Homo sapiens: one gene and its partners. The protein of the gene in region 2 purifies or fractionates together with the protein of the main gene of each other region. This does not show direct contact. Each region holds a gene or a part of one and is shown on either strand. Other genes may lie near its edges.

What was found.
Region 1: the proteins of DIS3L (region 2) and HBS1L purify together in Homo sapiens (affinity purification with mass spectrometry; 5 studies listed by BioGRID and IntAct, with this or other methods). This does not show direct contact.
Region 3: the proteins of DIS3L (region 2) and GIGYF2 purify together in Homo sapiens (affinity purification with mass spectrometry; 3 studies listed by BioGRID and IntAct, with this or other methods). This does not show direct contact.

The regions. Positions count from the first base shown.
Region 1 is NC_000006.12:135,051,749-135,059,798, forward strand, and holds the start of HBS1L (HBS1-like protein), read right to left. Parts: upstream 3,075-8,050; 5' UTR 2,944-3,074; coding exon 2,901-2,943; intron 1-2,900. UniProt on the Homo sapiens protein: GTPase component of the Pelota-HBS1L complex, a complex that recognizes stalled ribosomes and triggers the No-Go Decay (NGD) pathway.
Region 2 is NC_000015.10:66,296,568-66,303,567, reverse strand, and holds part of DIS3L (DIS3-like exonuclease 1), read right to left. Parts: intron 1-7,000. UniProt on the Homo sapiens protein: Catalytic component of the RNA exosome complex which has 3'->5' exoribonuclease activity and participates in a multitude of cellular RNA processing and degradation events.
Region 3 is NC_000002.12:232,784,257-232,791,420, forward strand, and holds part of GIGYF2 (GRB10-interacting GYF protein 2), read left to right. Parts: intron 1-2,893; coding exon 2,894-3,073; intron 3,074-6,441; coding exon 6,442-6,659; intron 6,660-6,751; coding exon 6,752-6,914; intron 6,915-7,001; coding exon 7,002-7,164. UniProt on the Homo sapiens protein: Key component of the 4EHP-GYF2 complex, a multiprotein complex that acts as a repressor of translation initiation. In the 4EHP-GYF2 complex, acts as a factor that bridges EIF4E2 to ZFP36/TTP, linking translation repression with mRNA decay.

The DNA of each region.
Region 1 (8,050 bases), on a different chromosome or scaffold from region 2:
TTATAAATTAATGAATCAAACTAATTACAACTAAAAACCCACAAAGAACATAAATATATTTACATAAATTTCATTTGACAAACACTAACACCATGCCAGGGAGTAGTTGAGACAACTGTGGTATAACAGTGAACACATTTCCAGTTATCACTGCACCTAAAATCTGACAAGGAATACACACAAGATAATGGGCAATTACAAAACCATGTGACAAGTGCCTGATGTGAGAAACACAGAGCAATTTGGGAACACACACATGAATGACAAAACTAGAACCGGGAGTGGGGCAGCTAGGGAAAGATCCCCATTAATATAATATCCAAACCAATTCCAAAGGATAGAGTTAGCTAGTTTCTGAGGGTATTCATGCAGCAGGAACAGCATGCTCAAAGGCTGAGACCAAATGCTTACAGCAAAGAAAAATTAGATAAATGCTACTATTGGGCAAAAACATATATGATTAAATAAATTATTAGATCACAATCCCAAGTTAATAAAAATTTATTTGCAAATAAACAAGGGGCCATTCACAAACAAAGTATTTTTAGATATTGAAGACAACAATAGGCCAGGCATCGTGGCTCACACCTGTAATTCCAGTACTTTGGGAAGCCGAGGAGGGAGGATCTCGCTTGGGCAACACAGCCGGATGCTGTCTCTACTAAAATAAAAAATTAACCGGGCATGGGGGCACATGCCTGTAGACCTAGCTACTCGGGAGGCTGAGGCACGAGGATTGCTTGAGCCCAGGAGTTGGAGGTTACAGAGAGCTATGATCATGCCACTGCACTCGCACTCCAGCTTGGCCAACCAACAAAGTGCGATCCTGTCTCTTAAAAAAAAAAAAAAAAGAAAAAAAACTCTTTTTTACTAGGTCAGTTTGTCAATGCTGAAGTTGACCCTAAAGTGCCACAACATATAAAGATGAAGAGAATTCTTTCCTGCAATCTTCATAGTTTGTTTCCTCAATCAACAAAATTATGAAATATTTACCACATGTAAAGAACATTGTGCCAGCTACTTAAAGTATGGATTTTGCCTTCCTGAGACTTTTAAATCAGTGACTGAGGCAGTCATGTAAAGTATTACATAAATTACAGAGAAAAACAAAGTGGGAGTTAAGTAGCGGAACCAGTAGGTTTTAGAACACAAACTCTCTCTAATGAGGTTATATTTCTTAACAGAATTTTTAAATTATTATTCTGAGAATTCAAGAGAAAGCCTAACTGGGAAGAAGAGAAATAAACTGGACCTTAATGAGTACAACTTTTATAAACAAGAAAAGGGGATGAACCTCCTTAATGTTACAGGAACAGCTTGGTTATGATGTCACCAATTGTTTCAAAGAAGCATGACAACATGACAACCTAACCTCAAGAAGCCAAGGTGCTCCCTGAGGCCAACCACCTCTCCTCCATGAAGCATTCCTTAACGTAGAAATCCTGCTTAAATTCCCCCCAATCCATTCTGAATTAAGTGTTCTCATCTGTGTATCCCTCCCATAGCGTTTTCTCAGTACCTTTTGTAGCATTTTTCATACTCTAATAATCTGTAACTCGTATAATCTTCTCCTTTTAGACCACCCTCAAATATCTTACTTTCAGTCCTCAAAGCTTAGAACAGTACTCTAAGCACTAACTTAATGGTGGTTGAGGAAATGATAAACAACTATTAAAGAAATGAATGAATAATAAATAGGCCTATTCATGTACTTTATATTTGCAAAAATCTCTCTCAATCTAAAGTCATTTCTTAGGTGACAATGGTCCACATGCAATACCATCCACTGCAATATTTATTTAAAAGGGCCTCCATTCTAAAGTAACCACCAGAAAATTCACATGTTCTAGACGGACTGAGGTCACAGGTTCCAAATGGAGAACAGGGTGTTAGCTGCCCTCACTCTAGTTAAAGCATACTGATGTTCTATAATAATCTACTGGGGTGCCAATGACAATCACCAACATATTAAGCACTACATGTTCTGCACTTCGTAAAGCATAGTTCTTTATTCTTCTCCTGCATTAGTTCATTTTTGTTTATATTTTTAGTTTATGTGATGCTTGGTGATGCCTATAGTTATCTACTGCATGAAGAGGGATGTGCTCCTCCTAAAAATAATTCTAACTCCTGTTAACTCCTACAGAACATTCATACAGACATTTTTATTTCATTTTTTAATATCAAAAAGTCCTTTCCTATACACTCTTTCCTCTAGTACTGCCGTTTATTTACATTTCAAAATACATTTATATCAAGCATTACCAGCCAAGAACTAAGTATAAACTTCAAGATCCATCTGATCGACTCATTCTTTGGGCCTTTTTAACATGTGTCTTTTCTACCGTCTCCTAAGTTTCCACTTTGAAATTCGTTGAAAAATAAATTAGCGCAAACTGATTCTGCACTAGGTATGTATGGACATACACAAAAGGTTTACCATGTAAATCTAACACAGGTACACGTCCGTTGAATGTATTAAGTCAATCTGTGTTTTACAAATAAGCAACGTTTCATGGACATTTCTCAAAGGGGATCTGGGAGAGAGGAGCTAGAAGCAGGCACGTTAGTGCCCAACATGGGAGGAAACAATGGAAGAGGTGATAATGCTTACGTGCCTAAATATCACCGGATCTCAACCTCACCAATATCCTACCCATATGACGCTATGCAGCACCTCCCCCTCCCCAAATAAAATCAACCCCAGAGGGCAGAAATCATGACTTAAAAACGACGGCATTTGAAAGCACTAGAAGGCCTGTTATATTCCCCAACTGGGGCTCTCCCAATCCCGACAGGGCAACACTGACGAGAAACTCACAGATTGAAGTGGATGCCAACGGGCTAGGATCCCAGCTGTAGCCGGGAAAAGAACGTCCCGGCATGACCCTGCCACCTACCTTCATCGTAGTTATAGCCTCGAACATTCCGATGCCGGGCCATGACGGCGGAGAGGGCGTTTGCCACAGCCCCTTAACTCCTTCCAAAACACTCCGCTTAGATACTGATAAGGCGCCAACTGCAGCCTGGAGAACCCCTATGCGCCATCTTGGCTTCCCGCAGGCCTCTGCGCCGAGCGCCTGCGCAAGCGCGACGTCTTAGCTGTGCACCGCGCGACGGCAATGCCTCAGGGTCACTGTCCGCCTCCCTGAGGGCGCATGCGCACTGCTGTGCATGGCGGGACGAGGGGAGGGAGCGTTTGGGAGTGGCCCCACCCAAAGGTTGGGCGACGGAGGGGGATGGGGAAATCCGCCGCCTAGAATTGACTGGTTTGGACTAAATGTTGCAAGCGGGGAACCTTGAGCTACCTACGCCAGCGTTCTGGATTATTTTCCAAATTTGGTTCCTGATAATCTGAGAAAGCTATGCGCTCAGTAAGAGCAGGGACCTTGTTTTATCAAACTTTGATCTTTCATTAAGCACACAGTGGGCATTCAACAAACTTGTGTAAACTTGGAATCAGATTTAGCCCAGGCCGGTGCGGTGGCTCCTTCCTGTAATCCCAGCACTTTGGGAAGCCTAGGAGGGCGGATCGCTTGAACTCAGGTGTTCGAGACCAGCCTGAGCAACATAGCGAGGCTCCGTCTCTACAAAAAATACAAACACTAGCCGGCCCTGTGGTGCAGACCTGTAGTCCCAGCTACTGAAGAGGCTGAGGTGGGAGGATCCCCTGAGCCCAGGCGGTCGAGGCTGCAGTGAGCTGAGATCGGGCCTCTCCATTCCAGCCCGGGCGACAAAGTGAGTGAGACCTTATCTCAAAAAAAAAAAGAGTCCAAGCTTTAGAGAAGGAAATAAGGCTATTTTTAAACGGGTATATATTATTAAATTGAGACCCTGGCTATATTAGGTCACCCTGCATTCATATAATTTACGACTTCATGTATTCACTCCGTTCGGCATTACTATCCCTAGTAAACAGCGATTTGCCCTTAGCTATGTAAACGATTTTAGCTATATAGACGATATTTATCAGCATCATAAAGAAGGATTCACTGAACATTCATTGAAGACATAATTGTGTGTAACATTGCGAGTATTAAATATAGCTTTTTAGACATAGCACTGGCCTTAGGTGGTAATGCTGAATGTTGTTGATGCATGAATCTATAACCTGCTATTAAATGTCCTCATTTCTCAGAACATAAAGTTAATAATGCTATATAAGAAACCAACCTCATTATACTGAACACCACTTCAGTTTTAGCTTGTGTTTTTGAAATGATGATACTTCACATCAAAGGCAAATGTTGAGTTCTAGAGATAATTAAAAGCTTCCTCAGCTTTTTGCTATGCACAATAGAAAGAAATAAGAGTAATCCAAATTTAGTTTATATTTGTAAGTGGCTTGGAACGTAATTTATTCATGCATTTGAATGTGTTTGACTACAAAAATAGTTGTTTAATGTGGCTCCAAAATAAAAGTTTACAGAAAAATAGAGATAGTTGCTAATGTTACATGGCTTAAGTGTTTTTATTATTTTACACCCTTAGGTAATTTTTATTTTGCAGCCTGTTTCTTTGTAAAAAGGAGATAGAGACACTAACTCGCGAGCTGTGAATAATGTATCCGTATAAGAGGATTTATCACAGATCATAGTAGGTGCTTAAAAATATTGTGTTATTGGCCGGGCGCGGTGGCTGACTCCTGTGATCCCAACACTTTGGGAGGCTGAAGCAGGCGGATCATGAGGTCAAGAGATCAAGACCATTCTGGCCAACATGGTGAAACTCCCTGTCTACTAAAAATACAAAAATTAGCTAGGCATGGTGGCGCGTGCCTATAGTCCTAGCTACTCGGGAGGCTGAGGCAGGAGAATCGCTTGAACCCGGGAGGCAGAGGTTGCAGTGAGCTAAGATTGTGCCACTGCACTCCAGCCTGGAGACAGAGTGAGACTCTGCACCCCCCCAAAAAAATTGTGTTATTAAAATACAAATGGCAGCTTCCACTCCACTGTAATTGTCAATTACAAGCTTAACTACAACTCACTGAGGTATGAAGTGAATGAGTTATAGACCACATAAGCAAAGTACTACAGGAACAATGAATAAGAAAACGTTACTTCTGTCAGATAATATATAATTTGCCCTTAGGTCGTCAATAACGCACTCCTTTAAAACTCTAAATATTGCACAGCATCTACTGCATCTCAAACAGTAGAGCCTCAATGGCAAAGCCTTCACTGACTTCTTCAGAAAAAGTTAGGATTGTTCCACTCCCCTCAGGACTCTGTAAGGTGTGGGCAGGGCACCGTGGCTCACGCCTGTAATCCCAGCACTTTGGGACGCTGAGGCGGGTGGATCACCTGAGGTCAAGAGTTCCAGACCAGCCTGGCCACCATGGTGAAACCCCCATCTTCCACTAAAAATAAAAAAAAATTAGCTGTGCGTGGTGGTGGGTGACTGTAATCCCAGCTACTCGGGAGGCTGAGGCAGGAGAATCGCTTGAACCCAGGAGGCAGGAGTTGCAGTGAGCTGAGATCGTGCCACTGCACTCCAGCCTGGACAACAAGGGCAAAACTCCGACTCAAAAAATAAATGAATAAAACTCTGGTATTGTGTTTTGATGGAAAGTACTATGACTTCGGAGTACCACGAACCTGGATTTCAGTCCCAGTTTTGTTGCTGTTAACCACTTCAGATTTAATGTCTTCATCTGTAAAATCGAATATATGAAAATGTATGTCTTCTGTTTTGTGAAAAGTAAATGATATATGTAAAAACAGTAGGTGTTGCAGAATGGGTACTCAGTAAATGCCACTTCTCTACCCCTACTAATTTCAAAGCTTTATCTTTGTTTCTCCGGCACCCTAATGTCTGGCACTTTAAATGTTTGCTGAATGAATTAATGAGTAAAAGAAGAGAAATAAAATGACATTTCTCTTGCTATGGAATTGTTAATGTCATAAAAAACAATACAAATCATTTTATATTGATTTGTGAAAAAAATTATGAATGAAAGGATAACTACATTACTGAAAAAATGTTAACAACTTTATTGAGATATCATTGACAATAAACTGCACATAATGTGTAATTTTGATACATTTTGACGTATGTATACACCAGTGAAGCCATCAACCCCATCAAGATAATGAACATATCCAGACTTTCAAAATTTTCCTGAAGTACCTTTATATCCAGAATAAAAATTCCAGAATATCCCGGAATCCTTCCTGCCCGTCAAGGCCTCCTCACCATGGCCCCTCAAAATAACTGATCGTCTTTCTGTCACTATGAGTTGTTTGCATTTTTTAAAATTTTATACAGGTGAAATCATATAGTATGTGTTCTTTTTTATCTGTCTTAATTCACTCAGCATAATTATTTTGAGATTCACCTGTGTAGTTGCTTGAATCAACAGTTCATTCCTTTTTATTAGAGGAGGATTCCGCTGTGTGGATATACCACAATTTGTTTTTCCATTCACCCATTGAGAGATATTTGGTTTGTTTTCCATTTTGACGACTGTAAATAAGGCTTCTGTGAATATCTGTGTACGAATCTTCGTATAAACATAAACTAATTTTTCCTGGGTAAATACCTAGGAGTAGAATGATATGATAGGTTATCTTCAGCTTTTTAAAGAAACTGTCAAACTGTTTTCCAAAAACAGTTGTAAAGTTTTATGTTTCCACCAGCAATGTAGTTCCATTTTCTCTATTTTCTCAACATCATTGCCAACACTTCATGAGGTCTAAAGATGTTAAGCTTACGGCCGGGCGCGGTGGCTCATGCATGTAAATCCCAGCACTTTGGGAGGCCAAGATGGGCGGAGCACAAGGTCAGGAGTTTGACACCAGCCTGGTCAACATGGTGAAACCCCATCTCTATTAAAAATACAAAAAACTAGCCGGGTGTGGTGGCACGCACCTGCAATCCCAGCTACTCGGGAGGCTGAGGCGGGAGAATTGCTTGAACCCGGGAGGTGGAGGTCTCAGTGAGCCGAGATCACGCCACTGCACTCCAGCCTGGGCGACAGAGCAAAACTCTGTGTAAAAAAAATAAAATTAAAAAAAGTCAAAATGATAGTTACTTTTGAAGTAGATATTAATGGAGTCAGGAAAGAGAGAATTAAAGGGAGCTTTCAGAGGTGCTGGAGATGTTCTATATATTGATCTGGGTTAGGATTATAAGGTTTTATACATGTATACAATTTTATTTTACTGTACATTTAAAATTTATGCACCTTTCAGTAATAAGTTATACCTCAATTTAAAAACCAAATTAAAAAATGCAAAAATTTATTAAATGGAATTTTCATTCCTGTCTTTAATATATACATATATGTCAGATGTTTCCTTTATGCCTCATAGTGTTGTTTTATTTATTTATTTTATTTTATTTGTATTGACAAGTTCTCACTATGTTCCCCAGGCTGGTCTCAAACTCCTGAGCTCAAGCCATCCTCCCACCTCCACCTCCCAAAGTGCTGGGATTACAAGCATGAGCCACCATGCCCAGCATATAGTGTCCTGTTTTAAAGATCTAAGCACTGTGATACATCTGAGTTAGAATTTACTTAACAATATATCAGTATTTCTCAGAGTATAGTCTGTTCTTCATCCTGTATTTGAAACTAAACAATTACTCATCCATTTACACTTAAAATTTTCTGTTGTTCCTGAAATAACACTGTCCTTGTTAGCTACTTAAATACTCATATGAGGTTTGGTAAATAAATTATAGTGACGCTTCTACTCCATAACTATTAAAAAGAAATGAAGGAATTGATCTTAGTCATTAAGAAAGGAAGAATAAGGCTGGGCGCGGTGGCTCACGCCTGTAATCCCAGCACTTGGGAAGGCTAAGGCGGGCAGTTCAAGACCAGCCTGGCCAACATGGTGAAACCATGTCTCTACTAAAAATACAAAAACTAGCCAGGCGTGGTGCCGGGAGCCTGTAATCCCAGCTACTTGGGAGGCTGAGGTGGGAGAATCAGTTGAACCTAGGAGGCAGAGGTTGCAGCGAGCCAAGATCGTGCTACTGTACTCCAGCCTAGGTGACAGAGCAAGACACCATCTCCAAAAAAGAATGGGAGGGATGGAGGATA
Region 2 (7,000 bases):
AGTATCTGAACTTACTGTAGTTATTTGTTTACAAATGATCTCTCTTGCTAAGCATCCTTCATTTAGAAAATCTTTGCTTCTATGTGCCAGGTCTGCTGGGGGAGGTGAGGGGTGCTGCACTGAATGCCCTGGGGAATACCAACTAGACATCCCACTGCATCTGAATAGTGTCCTACGGCATAGATAGGGCAGTGCCCCATGTCTGCAGCAAAGAAAGGAAAAATAGACATACCATACGATCCAGTAATCCCACTTCTGGGTATATACCCAAATTGAAAGCAAGGACTCAAACAGACATTTGTATACCTATGTTCACAGCAACACTACTCACAGTACACAGGCAAAAGGTGGAAGCAATCTATCAATGGATGAATGGATAAACAAAATGTGGAATATATTATTCACATTTAAAAAGGAAGACAGTTCCAACACATGCCATAACATGGGTGAACCCTGACACATTATGCAGAGTGAAATAAGCCACTCACAAAAGGACAAACACTGTGTCATTCCAGTTACATGAGGTACTGAGAGTAGTCAAATTCACAGAGATGGAAAGTAGAATAGCAGAATAGGGGCCAAGGAGGGGAGACAGTGTTTAAGGGGTATAGAGTTTCAGTTAGGACAGATGAAAAGTCCTGGAGACAGATGTTGGTGATGGCTGACAACAAGGCATATGTATTTAATGCCTCTGAACTGTGCACTTAAAAATAGTTAAAATGACAACTTTATGTATGTACATTTTACCACAATTTAAAATAAAGCTATGCTACTTGGCAAAAACAAACCAAACATAAGACAGAACCACCCATTTCGGTGGGATAAGTGCTTGAAAGGAGAAGATGGGAGGGATGGGAAGGCTTCCTGGAGTAGGTGACCCATGAGCTCTGAAGGATGAATAAGAGTGAGTGGAGACAAAGAGCCCAAGAGACGAGAGCAGGGCGGAATGTGCGAGACAGCAGACAGTAAGGCTTTACTTCAGTGCTTTACCCCCAGGTGCTGAATCAATGCTTTCCAAATGAACAAATGAATGCACAGCCCTACATGATAACAGTGATCCAAGTGCAGGGTAATAACGCCCCTGAATAAACTGACATTTCCAGAGCCCCGTTGCCTTTTGCTAAGCTTCATAGACATCACTGCATTTGTTTTCACACCTTCACTTCAGACCCAGGGTTTTTGTTTTTGCTTTTGTTTTTTTGAGACAGGAACTCGCTCTGTTGCTCAGGCTGCAGAGCAGCAGCGCGATCATGGCTCCCTGCAGCCTCAAACTCTCAGGCTCAAGTGGTCTCCCACCTCAGCCTCACAAGCAGCTAGGACTACAGACGCAGGCCACCATGCTCAGCTAATTTTTTTGGTTTTTTTTGTATTGAGACAGGGTCTCACTATGTTAGCCAGGCTGATCTCAAATTCCTGAGCTCAAGCTATCTTCTTGCCTTGGCCTCCCAACGTGCTGGGCGTGAGCCACCGTGCAGACCCAGGGATTCTTGAATTCTGTTCTCTGCAAATACTGATGTGTCTGCCACAAGCCAGACCCAGGGGTTACCACCAGATTAGAGTAATGACAATCCTTCCTAATATTTAGAAAAATATATCACTTAACAAAAAATGTTCTCAATTTTAAGTTTCACTCCCATATATATTTTCTTAGACTTTTAGTGCAAGCTTCCATTTGTCAGCTACCTATCAGCCAGATAAAACAAATGAACAAACGGCAAAAGAATATTAATGCAGAAAGCAGGAAACAAACAGCGAATCACTCTGAGTGTGACAGTCAGGTTTGCTTGTAGACATGTGGGCTTACAGTTATAATTTAATAGCGCATACATATGATATAGTCATATTTTTTGCTAGTCAGGATTTTGTAGTGCATATGATGGGACCAGATAGATGAACATCCTGCACGGAGTCAGCAAACAGCACCATGTGCCTTAAGCGAATTCGACCAGAATGACAGGAGAACAATGGTTTCAGACAGTCAAGTACAGGTCAGGTGTGGTGGCTCATGCTTGTAATCCTAGCACTTTGGGAGACCGAGGCGGGAGGATCACTTGAGGTCAGGAGTTTGAGACCAGCCTGGTCAACTTGGCAAAACCCTGTCTTTACTAAAAATACAAAAATTAGCGAGGCATGATGGTGGGTGCCTGTATTCCCAGCTATCTAGGAGGCTGAGGCAGGAGAACCGCTTAAACCCAGGAGGCAGAGGTTGCAGTGAGCTGAGATGGCACCACTGCACTCCAGCCTGGGTGACAGAGCGAGACTCCTTCTCATAAATAAATAAATAAATAAATAAATATAAATTCAACTCTTGCAGAAAAACCTTAGTTCCTTGGACTGGCTTGGATGTTTTCTAAAACTCCATCATCTTAATGTTTTAAGCAATTTCTCAGAGGGGCAGTTAAACCTACCTTCTTTAGGTTGATTTTTTTTACTATTTTTATTCAGTGGTGACCTTACCTACAGATGCAACATCCCTTTCCGCTGCTGACTGTTCTCTCTAAGGATTAGAAGTGGGAGTCCCACACCAGTGGAAAGACCTACAAAGTGAATTCTGTACTAAATGTGTTTCATCACCTGGATTTTGCAGAACCCAGGTAGGGTCTCACAGACTTACCTTCAGACACCACTGAGTTTTCCACAAGTTTATATTGCCATTTATATTAGACAATACTCACAAAACATTTTTATGGAGTACATTTGGGGCCATCTGAACGACTGCCTTCTAACTGCACTGCCATTTGGCGTCAGTGCGGCCCTCTCAGATGCCCCAGAGACACTTCAAACTCTCGACCTTGACTCCCCTGCCCCCAGGCTTCCTCTAGTGTTCCCTCTCTCCATCCAGTCATGTAGGCCAGAAACCTCAGTGATACTCTTGACCCTACCTTCCCCGCCATCTCACATACCTAAATCTATCACTAGTTCTAGAGATTTTAAAAAAGAGCAGCTTTATTGTACCTAAATCTATCACTAGTTCTAGAGATTTTAAAAAAGAGCAGCTTTATTGAGATATAATTCACATACCATAAAATTTGCCCTTAAAACACACACAGTTCAGTGGGTTTTAGTATAGTCACAGTTATGCAACCATCACCGTCGATCTAATTACAGAACATTTTAATCACTCGGAAAAGAAATCTGTATCCATCCATTAAGCAGTCATTGCCTGTTCCCCTTGACCCCAGCCCCCGGCAACCACTAATCTACTTTCTGTTGCTATTGATATACCTGTTCTGGACATTTTACATAAATGGAATTATACAACATATGATGTTTTTATGTGTGCTCTGGCTTCTTCCACTTAGCATGTTTTTGTGGTTTATCCACACTGTAGCATCTATCAGTACGTCATTCCATCTTATGGCTGAATAATATTCCCCTGTATGGATAGTCCACATTTTGCTTAACCATAATCAATTAACGGACATTTGGGATGTTTCCATGTTTTGGCTATGATGAAGAAAGCTGCCATGAACATTTGTGTATGATGTTTTCATTTTTATTTATTTATTTATTTTTGGAGATGGAGTCTTGCTCTGTCACCCAGGCTGGAGTGCAGTGGAGCGATCCTGGCTCACTGCAACCTCCGCCTCCCAGGTTCAAGCAATTCTCATGTCTCAGTCTCCCGAGTAGCTAGGACTACAGGCGTGCATCACACACAGCTGGCTAATTTTTTGTATTTTAGTAGAGATGGGTTTCACCGTGTTGCCCAGTCTGGAACTCCTGAGGTCAGGCAATCTGCCCAACTTGGCCTGTCAAAATGCTAGGATTACAGGCGTGAGCCACCGCGCCCGGCTGTGTATGATGTTTTTAGTTTCAATGTTGACATGTTTTCAATTCTCTTAGTTATACACTTAGGAAGTTTTATATATTTTTACCTATTAAATACTCCTTGGAAACATCTATTTCTCTCTATCTCTAAGCTACCAACATTCCCTCATCTGGACTAAAGCAAAAGCCTCCTCCCTTCTTTTTTCCAGGCCTCTTCTCTACCTGGCCCAGTAATCCCTTTTTTTTTTTTTTTTGAGATGGAGTTTTGCTCTTTTGCCCAGACGGGAGTGCAACGGCGTGATCGTGGCTCACTGCAACCTCCGCCTCCCAAGTTCAAGCAATTCTCCCACCTCAGCCTCCTGAGTAGCTGGGATTATTACAGGCACCCACCATCACGCCCAGATAATTTTTGGATTTTTGTAGTGATGGGGCTTCACCATGTTGGCCTGGCTGGTCTTCAACTCCTGACCTCAAGTGATCCACCCACCTCCACCTCCCAAAGTGCTGGGATTACAAGTGTGAACCACCGCTGAGTAATCCTTTCAGGACAGGAATCTGATCATGTTATCCCATTTTGCTTAAAAGTTTTCCCTGACATCCCTGAGGCCATGAGGCCTTCCATCCCACCCAGGCATTCTTTCTGCTCCTGGGGTGTGCCACAGGCCCCTCCCCATGGGCCCCAGGCATTTTCCTCTGCCTTGAAAGCTTTCCTCCACTCTGCCTGGTTTATGCCAACCCTTGGACCTCCACCTAGGCGTCCCCCTCAGAAAAGCCCTTCCTTGCCTCCCTGGGTGGTCTGGGCTCTCCTGGCGCCCCATCCCTGTGCTTCAGTGCATTTGTCACAGTTGCAGTTCTGCATCTGTTTGTGTAATTGCCCGATTACTGCCTGTCACCCTGCCAGGACTCCATCTGCTTTGGTTCGCCACTGTACCCTCAGTGCTAGCAGTTTCTGGCACATATAGTCTCTTGGTGAACATTTGTTGAATAAACCAACACACATGTGAACACATGAACATGGTGGACAAAACAGCCTTACAGAGTTGTCAGGGGGACTCCTCATTAAATAAGCATTTATTTGAAGATTATTAGATGGCAGAACATGTGATTATCCTGAACGACTTAAGACCTGACATTAGTCATACTGTTCTGTGCAATACACTTATGAGAACAAGCATTCTCTGCATTGATATTATTGAAGTCAAAATAGGAAATCTTATTACAAATATAACCAGATTAAAGGCTGTGTCTTTCCATTGTTAAACCTAACTCTGGTGATTTTGTTTCAGCAAAACAATGTTATCTGTCACGTTGAATAATGTTCATTTGCGGTTTTCTGATTTTGTTACTTTGATTATTTAGCTTACACTAGGGTTGTATTAAAGTACTTAAACATGAGGACTTATACCGAGATTTATGTTTAAACACATTTAAATAACAATAGAAGAAAATAACACTGGGTATCCAGGAGGATTTTTTTCTTTTAGAAACAAGATGGATATATCACTCATGTTGAGAACACTGAGGTACTGGATGGGGAGTTAGATCATGTGACCTTTCAGATCTCTCCAACCATAATATTCTACAATTTCAATCTTTTTTTTTTTTTTTTTTTTTTTTTTTGAGACGGAGTCTTGCTTTTGTTGCCCAGGCTGGAGTGCTGTAGCATGATCTCGGCTCACCACAACCTCCGCCTCCCGGGTTCAAGCGATTTTCCTGCCTCCGTCTCCTGAGTAGCTGGGATTACTGGCATGCGCCACGTCATCTCGCGCATTTTGTATCTTTAGTAGTGACAGGATTTCGCCATGTTGGCCAGGCTGGTATCAAACTCTTGACCTCAAGTGATCTACCTGCCTTAGCCTCCCAAAGTGCTGAGATTATGGGCATGAGCTACTCAGCCTGGCCTGATTCCCATCTTATATACCATCAAGAAACTGAGGCATGAAATATGGAGACTCTCTGAAGCTATACAGAAGGAATTCAGGAGGGAGTCAAAAGGAACAAGCAAAGCATCCTACACCAGACACCAGACAGGACCAGGGATTATTAACTGACAAAACTTTCCTAACCAAGAATGTTCCTAAAAGCATATTGGATAAAATGAATTATTTACTTGCATCTCAAAAATGTCCAAGGAAGAAATGAAAAACAAAACAAAATGTTCCCCAACATTAAATGAACAAAACACTAGAGAGCTTCTGCTAGGCCAAGTTCAGTTAAATATAAAAAGTTAATTATCACCAAAAAAATGTTAAGTATGTAAAGTAATGCATATGCTAATTAGCTTGATTTGGCCTTTCCACAATGTATACATATTTTAAAACATCATGTTGTATACCATAAATATATATGATTTTTAAAAATAAGTTTTTTAATAGAGACAGGGGTCTCACTATGTTGCACAGATTGGTCTTGAACTGGGCTCAAGTTATCCTCCTGTCTTGGCCTCCCAAAGTGCTGGGATTATAAGTATGAGCCACCAGGCCTGGCCAAATACATACAATTTTAATCTGTCAATTAAAAAAAGTCAAATAACTTACACTTAACACTTAGGAAGGCTGAATTAATCAAGCACATCTCTCAGATCTTATGTATTCAATGCCTATTATTAATTTGAAAGTTAGCCTTTAAGAAATGACACTTTCTAGTGCTCAGACAATTTGGGTCATTTAGCTATGTCAACCTGAAGGCACCTGCTGGTTGCTTAACAGGTAAACAAAGTGCCAAGTCCCAAATTTGCTGATTTCTTCCTCTTCTTCAATCATACTCGTAATACGCCTTAAAGACCAGTCTCAAATCCATTTCCCCCAAAGGATTTTTTGGCCTAATTGCTCCACTCCACGTTTACTTCTGCACTTTGCATAGTCCACGTTAAATTATCCTTCGTGTGTCTAAGGCGCTTCATAATAACTGTCTTGTTTCTTCTATCTAACCCCAGCAAGACAATAGGTTTGTTGTTAGAGGGACTAAGACTGATTTTGGGCCGGGCACAGTGGCTCATGCCTGTAATCCCAGCACTTTGGGAGGCTGAGGCAGGCGGATCATGAGGTAAGGAGTTCAACACAAGTCTGACCAACATGGTGAAACCCCATCTCTACTAAAAATACAAAAATTAGCCGGGCGTGGTGGCGTGCACCTGTAATCCCAGCTACTCAGGAGGCTGAGGCAGGAGAATCACTTGAACCCGGGAGGTGGAGGTTGCAGTGACCTGTGAGCCGAAATCACGCCACTGTAC
Region 3 (7,164 bases), on a different chromosome or scaffold from region 2:
AGTTCAAGACCAACCTAAACAACATAGCAAGACCCCCATCTCTGCAAAAATTAAATAAAATGAAATTTTAAATTTAGCTGAGTGTGGTGGCATGTGCCTGAGGTTCTAGCTACTTACACGAAATAATTTCTTTTTTTTTTTTTTTTTTTTTGAGACGGAGTCTTGCTCTGTCACCCAGGCTGGAGAGCAGTGGCGTGATCTGGGCTCACTGCAAGCTCCACCTCCCAGGTTCATGCCATTCTCCTGCCTCAGCCTCCTGAGTAGCTTGGGACTACAGGCGCCCGCCACCGCGCCCGGCTAATTTTTTCTATTTTTAGTAGAGATGGGGTTTCATCGTGTTAGCTTGATCTGACCTCGTGATCTGCCCGCCTTAGCCTCCCAAAGTGCTGGGATTACAGGTGTGAGCCACCGCGCCTGGCCACAAAATAATTTATAAAAGCTGCAATATGGTTTTTGATATATCAGATATTACATAATAACTACAATAGATTTAGATTATGACTTCTCTGGTAAACCAAGTGATATAGTTTGGATGTTTGTCCCCTCCAGATCACATGTTGAAATGTGATCGCCAGTGTTGGAGGTGGGGCCTGGTGGGAGGTGTTTGGGTCATGAGGGTGGATCCCTCATCCCCTCCCCACTGTAATGAGTTCAAGAGTCTGGGATCTCTGTCATCTTTCTTGCTCCCTCTCTCACCATGTGACATACTTGCTCTCACTTCACCTTCCACAATGAGTAACAGCTTCCTGAGGTCTCACTGGAAGCCAGACAGATGCTGGTGCCATGCTTGTATAGTCTGCAGAACCACGAGCCAAATAAACAACTTCTTCTTCTTTTTTTTTTTTTAATAAATTACCCAGCCTCAGGTATTCCTTTATAGCCATGCAAAATGGACTAATAAACCAAGGAAAGCCAGAATATAGTTCTGACATTCCAGACACGTCCTGCAGGTAAGAGCAAGGTCATAGATAATAAAACCCTTGCTTGGTGGTTCAAAACAGCAAACATTTATTATCTCAGTTTCTGTGGGTTGGGAATCTAGAAGCAGCTTAGCCTAGCTGGGTGGTTCTGGCCCAGGGTTCTTGTAAGGCTGCACTCAAGGTGTCAGCCCATGCTGCAGTCTCTCAAAGCTCAACTGGGGTTTGATCCACTTCCAGACTCACTCATGTTTCTGGTGGTAAGTCTCAGTTCTTTGCCATGCAAGCTTCTCCACGAGGTCTGTGTCACTACATGGCAACTAGTGTCCTTCAGAGAAAGTGTCCAAGATGGAAACTACAGTCTTCTTTAATATTTTAAGTGGCATCTCATCACTTCAGCTGCATTCTGTTAGTCCAGCTTATAATTGGGGGTAGAGGATTCCACAGAGATCAGCAGTCAGGGATTGTTGGTGAGCTCTTAGAGGCTGTCCACCACAATAAGAAAGCAGCAGATCATGTCTTCCATTCTCCCAAGATATTTTATCTTTCAGTAGAATGATACCTAGTAGCAGACTAACAACCATATGGACAAGCAGGATGCTGAATCTCAATATATGTAAGATGGAATATAACAGAATGACCAGAAATTAGAATTTCATTTTCATATGCTGTTGTTCAATTATTTTTTCACTTTTAGTATGGATTAATTAAAAGGATTGAGTTTGTCATTATGAGAACTTGAACTTTTATTGTTATAAACTGAGGACATCAATGTATGTTATTCTGGATTTTCAACTATTTTGATGTGAGATTTTATAAATGTTATGAGTTATATATGTTAGCACATGTGGAATGGTGACTGAAGAATTTGTTTGCACAATTTAGAATGATCTTGTCCTTTTAAAATACCAGTTTAGTTTACTTGGTATACCAGGCTCTCTTTTGACATTAATGTAACTTTTGAGACATTAGGTTAGACATAGCTTAGCTTTAAATTCTGTCCAAAAGCAATTTATGGTATGCCTGTATTGTATTAGGTGCTAGAGTAAATGAGGTTATACTACTTTTCAATTTTTTTTTTTGAGACGGAGTCTTGCTCTGTCACCCAGGCTGGAGTACAGTGTCGCGATCTCTGCTTACCGCGACCTCCGCCTCCTGGGTTCAAGCCATTCTCCTGCCTCAGCCTCCTGAGTAGCTGGGATTACAGGCACTTGTCACCACACCCAGCTAATTTTTGTATTTTGAGTAGACATGAGGTTTCACCACATTGGCCAGGCTGGTCTCCCAACTCCTGACCTCGTGATCCACCTGTCTCGGCCTCCCAAAGTGCTGGGATTATAGGCGTGAGCCACCACGCGGCCTGCTTTTCAGTTTATAATCTGTTTTGGAATGAAAGACGGCCTGAAATGTACAGATATCATGTTTAGGCAGAATCACCAGTAGGTGTTGGTTATATAAAGTATGTTGTATGATGAAAAATATCTTATAACTTTAAAAAGTATGTGCTAGTAAGGAAGGATTGGCAAGATACACTGTTAGTGAAAACAGCAAACAAAACAACATTTATAACATCCTGAGGGTGGCGTTTGTGTGTGTGGATGAGGGAGCTATGTATACATGTGTAAGTGTACCCATGGACAGTGTTTGGAAAGACTTTATAAGAAACTTGGTGATGGTTCCTTCTGGGGAGTACGACTCTGAGGGTCTTGTGTAGGAAGATGGACTTTTCATTGTACGCTTTTTCAAAAAAAATTTTACATAATATTTTTGTTTAAAAAAATTGCCCAGTCTCTGAACATGGCTTTAAGAAATGTGTCTAATAATATATACATATACCCACTGTTATTTTAGTGATTTTTTTCTGAATATTGAAATGGACCCATTTGCAGGAAAGCTTGATTTGAGCTGTGAAGTTTGTTTTCAAAGCCTATACTGGCAGAGGCTCATGTTTACTTACCATATTATTTTCTTTATAGGGAGACCAAATTTTGAGGAAGGTGGACCAACATCAGTAGGGAGAAAGCATGAATTTATACGCTCAGAAAGTGAAAATTGGCGCATCTTTAGAGAGGAACAAAATGGAGAAGATGAAGATGGAGGTTGGCGACTAGCTGGATCAAGGAGGGATGGAGAGAGGTGGCGACCTCACAGTCCTGGTAAGAATTCTGTTGAGTAAAGGCACACAGGGACTGAAATAAGGGAAAGTTTGATGGAAATAGGGATTAAATGAAAAAGATAAACTGGCTTAAAAAATGTGGGGGTGGATTCATATTATTTATGCTGTCACAGTTTTATTACTAGAAAAAATTGCAACATAAAAATTTCCTACATCTATTCAGTTGATTGAAATCACTTTTCTATTTTTCTGGGGCAAATAGTGTAGTTTAATGGGAAGCACCTGCGCTCAACTGCAGAAATGAGGGTTTCATTCAGTTTTGTCTACCTCTAAATCTCTGAATCTTTTTTAGCATTCTTTAAGATTTATAAATGTGTAAAAATTACACACTTGAAATATGTGCTTCCCTCCCCAACAATGAGTGTTTTTCCTAACAAGAAAGGGTTTATTCTTTCATTTTTTCCCTTTTGAAAATGTGATTTAACCTTATTTGAAGAATAAGCTTTAAACCTAGGTCAGAAACATAATCACAAGTTCATTCTTATGTCCTTCTAACTTTAGAAGAAGGAGAGACAATAGTAGTGATTAGTGGCTTTTAAAGTTCTTCTGTTTGTCTCTTAAAAATGCTCAAACTGTTCTTCTTGGACATTAGATATGCTAGTAATTGAAGACACTAGTGCTTTGTGTTAAAGTTCATCCTGTACCACAGTGCTGATTCCATGCCTCATGATAATCAGATGCAACTGTAGTTCCAATTGTGGGGTCATGCAAAACTGAAGCACACAGAGTATATGTGGAATGCCCTATGAATTTCATGTGTATGACAGTATTTTATCAACCATGTGCCAGAGGGGCTTACCTTTAATACAGGAAATTATGATAAGTAAACTGTTTTCACTTTTAAAAATCAAGTTATTAGCAAAACCACTAGCTTAGATCTGGGTAGACATTATAACAGGCATTCAGAGTATTTTAAGGAAGTGGTAGGTAGATAGAAACATACTGAAGTTAATGTTTGGGTAGAGTTAGGATGGTTTTATACCAACTCTTCATGGCTGCCTCTTGGGTGGGTTTTCTGTCATTAGTGGGCATTGTTTACATCACAAGGTCTAGACAATTTTCATTAGTCTGTGACCTGGGCCAGATGTTATAGTTCTCTAAAAGGCATCACTGCATTTTATGCTGAGCTTGTCCGTAGGCAGAGGGTTTGTAGACTATGTTCCCAACAAGCATTCAGTGAAGAATGGATAGGATCTGGGCTGAGAGAGAAAAGAAATTCCAGCTGGTCAAAAACAAACAAGGTGAATGTTTTGGAAGATGAACTGTGTTTTTTGAGCCCAAATGTCTGATGTTGATTCTATTAAAGGGAGTTTAACAAAGTACCTCCCACCCAACAACTTAGAATTTGGTTATATATTATCTTCTTCTCATCTTTTCTGAATCTTTCTTTCCCCCTAATATTTGACTTTCATATCATTTTTGTCATCAACTTGTGTATCTTCCAGAACTTTTAATCCATATACATATATATTTTTTCAGTCACACCTGTGGCTGAAATCCATATATTTTTAAAAGACAGTTTGGGGGATATAAAGATCCCCCAAATATAAAGTTTGGGTCTGAAAAAACAGTGTAAATGCATTTTAAAAAAGAATACGATTCACTTTTTAAACCCAGTATATTCAAAGTATAGCCTGATTATAGCAGTTTTCATATGTTAACTCTTAACGTTTGTTAGTTTATGGTTAATCTTTTATTAAGATTTGAGTAAAACTTTAAATTATTTTAACTGATTTTATGAAAATAGTATCCAACTTTAGTTTAGATGTAGGGTCTGTAAATCAGCAGTCAGCCTTAATAAGTACCTTGCATGTCTTACTTGCTATGTTTAGTTTCGTGAGTAAAATTTTATGAACTACTGATAAGATAACATTATGGGATATAAAATAGGGCTTCCGGCTGGATGTGCGTGGGGGTGGGAACATTAAGGACAGGGAGGCATCCAGTCTGGGAGCTGAACCTAGGAAAGTCAGTAAGAGGAGAAACATGAGCCAGGTACCTAGAAGGATAGATTCCTGTCATGATGTACATTTAGACTGTTAGAAATGAAAGCAGTACAGAGGGCTCTGGAATTCATTTGATCATGAAGACTCTTTTCACATAATGGCTCTAGGTTTCCACGTAAGCAGTCTGAGTATAAAATTCCTTAGTTCTCATAGGAAGTAGTAAATAGTGTTTTGTTGTTTTTATATGAAGGGATGGGAGTGTGGGACTAAGATTTCTTTTTTGTGAGTGGCTTATCAGATGCTACCTGTATTTGGCATTTTAACGTTTTGCCCTTTGTTTTCCAATTTGATTTTTAGATTGCTGGTTTTTGCAAAGTTTGTCTCAATAGTGAGAACATTTAACTCTGGCCACATTTCTTTTTCTTATCCCCCACAGAGAAAGCAGTCAAGGATGGAAAATTCTAATAGGTTAAAGCCTGCTTTTCTTTTTAAGACTCTTTTAGACTCAGGTCTGTCAGATTTTAGCAAGAGTTTCCCTTTCTTTTTTTTAGAAAAATATCTTAAGTAGGATCTCTTATTATTAGGCAATCTTTTCTTCTGTTGGGAAATGTAGATTTGGGAATGTCCGTAGGGGTATTATATGGATAGGGAGAATTAAGAGATGAGAAAGAAGGGAGAGGAGTAAGTATGTTATTGTGGAACAAGCAGCAGAGGGTGCAGAATTGGATTTTAGTTCTACTTTGCCATGTGCGAGTTACTTCTGCTGGCAAAGTTTTAGTTTCTTCTTAAACTATAAAATTAGGATAGTGAACTTCATAAAATCTCTGTGACAACTTTCAGCACTGTAATTTTGTGAATTTTTGGGGGAGGATCAGAATTACAAGTGGGAACCTGGCATTAATAAATAGTCATGATGAGTTTGATATAAGTCAACACAGGGAGCTGATTTTATCCACAAACAATGATATTTTCATGGGAAGAAAGAAAATGCTTTAAGATTGGGCAAAAGGAAGGTGTAAACTTCAGTATGGAAGGATGTCTAGTGCATTAAGTCTGGATGAGGAGTTGGCGGCTAATCAGTATTTTAATCAAGTACCTAGGACTTACTGAAAGTGCGTACTTGGAATACAGTGTCCTTTAAATGTACTGCATTTTAGATTTATCTTTTAAAGCTTTAGAGTATGTTGCCTGGCTCAGTACTTAAGTACTGTTGTCATCTCGTAATGGTACATATACTCTGAACTCTGAACTTCATTTAGTTGCCTAATGTTCTCTTTACTAGGTCAGTCCATTTGAGTTTGCGGTCACTTGTAGTTTTCTCCTTTATTTTCTATTCCTGATTTTCTTATTCAAATACTGTCATAAAACTTTTCTAAGGTTTGTGTCCTCCTTCTCATCTCAGATGGCCCTCGTTCTGCAGGCTGGCGGGAACACATGGAACGACGTCGGAGGTTTGAGTTTGATTTTCGAGATAGAGATGATGAACGGGGTTACCGAAGGGTTCGCTCTGGCAGTGGGAGCATAGATGATGACAGGGATAGCTTGCCCGAATGGTGCTTAGAGGATGCTGAAGAAGAAATGGGTACATTTGACTCATCTGGAGCATTCCTTTCTCTAAAAGTAAGAAACGTGTTTTAAATGTCATGACCAGCATTAACCTTATACCAAAGCCAAATCTGCTGTTGATCTTTGGTTTTATTCTCTTTCTACAGAAAGTACAGAAAGAGCCTATTCCAGAAGAGCAGGAGATGGACTTCCGGCCTGTGGACGAAGGGGAGGAGTGCTCTGACTCTGAGGGTAGCCATAATGAAGAGGCCAAAGAACCCGATAAGACAAATAAGAAAGAAGGAGAGAAAACAGATAGAGTAGGAGTTGGTAAGGCCTCTTCTTGCCCTTTGCCTTTTTTTTCCTCCATCAAACCAAAACTTTCGTAAGTTCAACTAAGATTACTTCGTGTTCCAGAAGCTAGTGAGGAAACTCCCCAGACCTCATCATCATCTGCTAGACCAGGTACTCCTTCAGACCATCAGTCTCAGGAAGCATCACAGTTTGAGAGGAAAGATGAACCAAAAACTGAGCAAACGGAAAAAGCTGAAGAGGAGACTCGGATGGAAAATAGTCTACC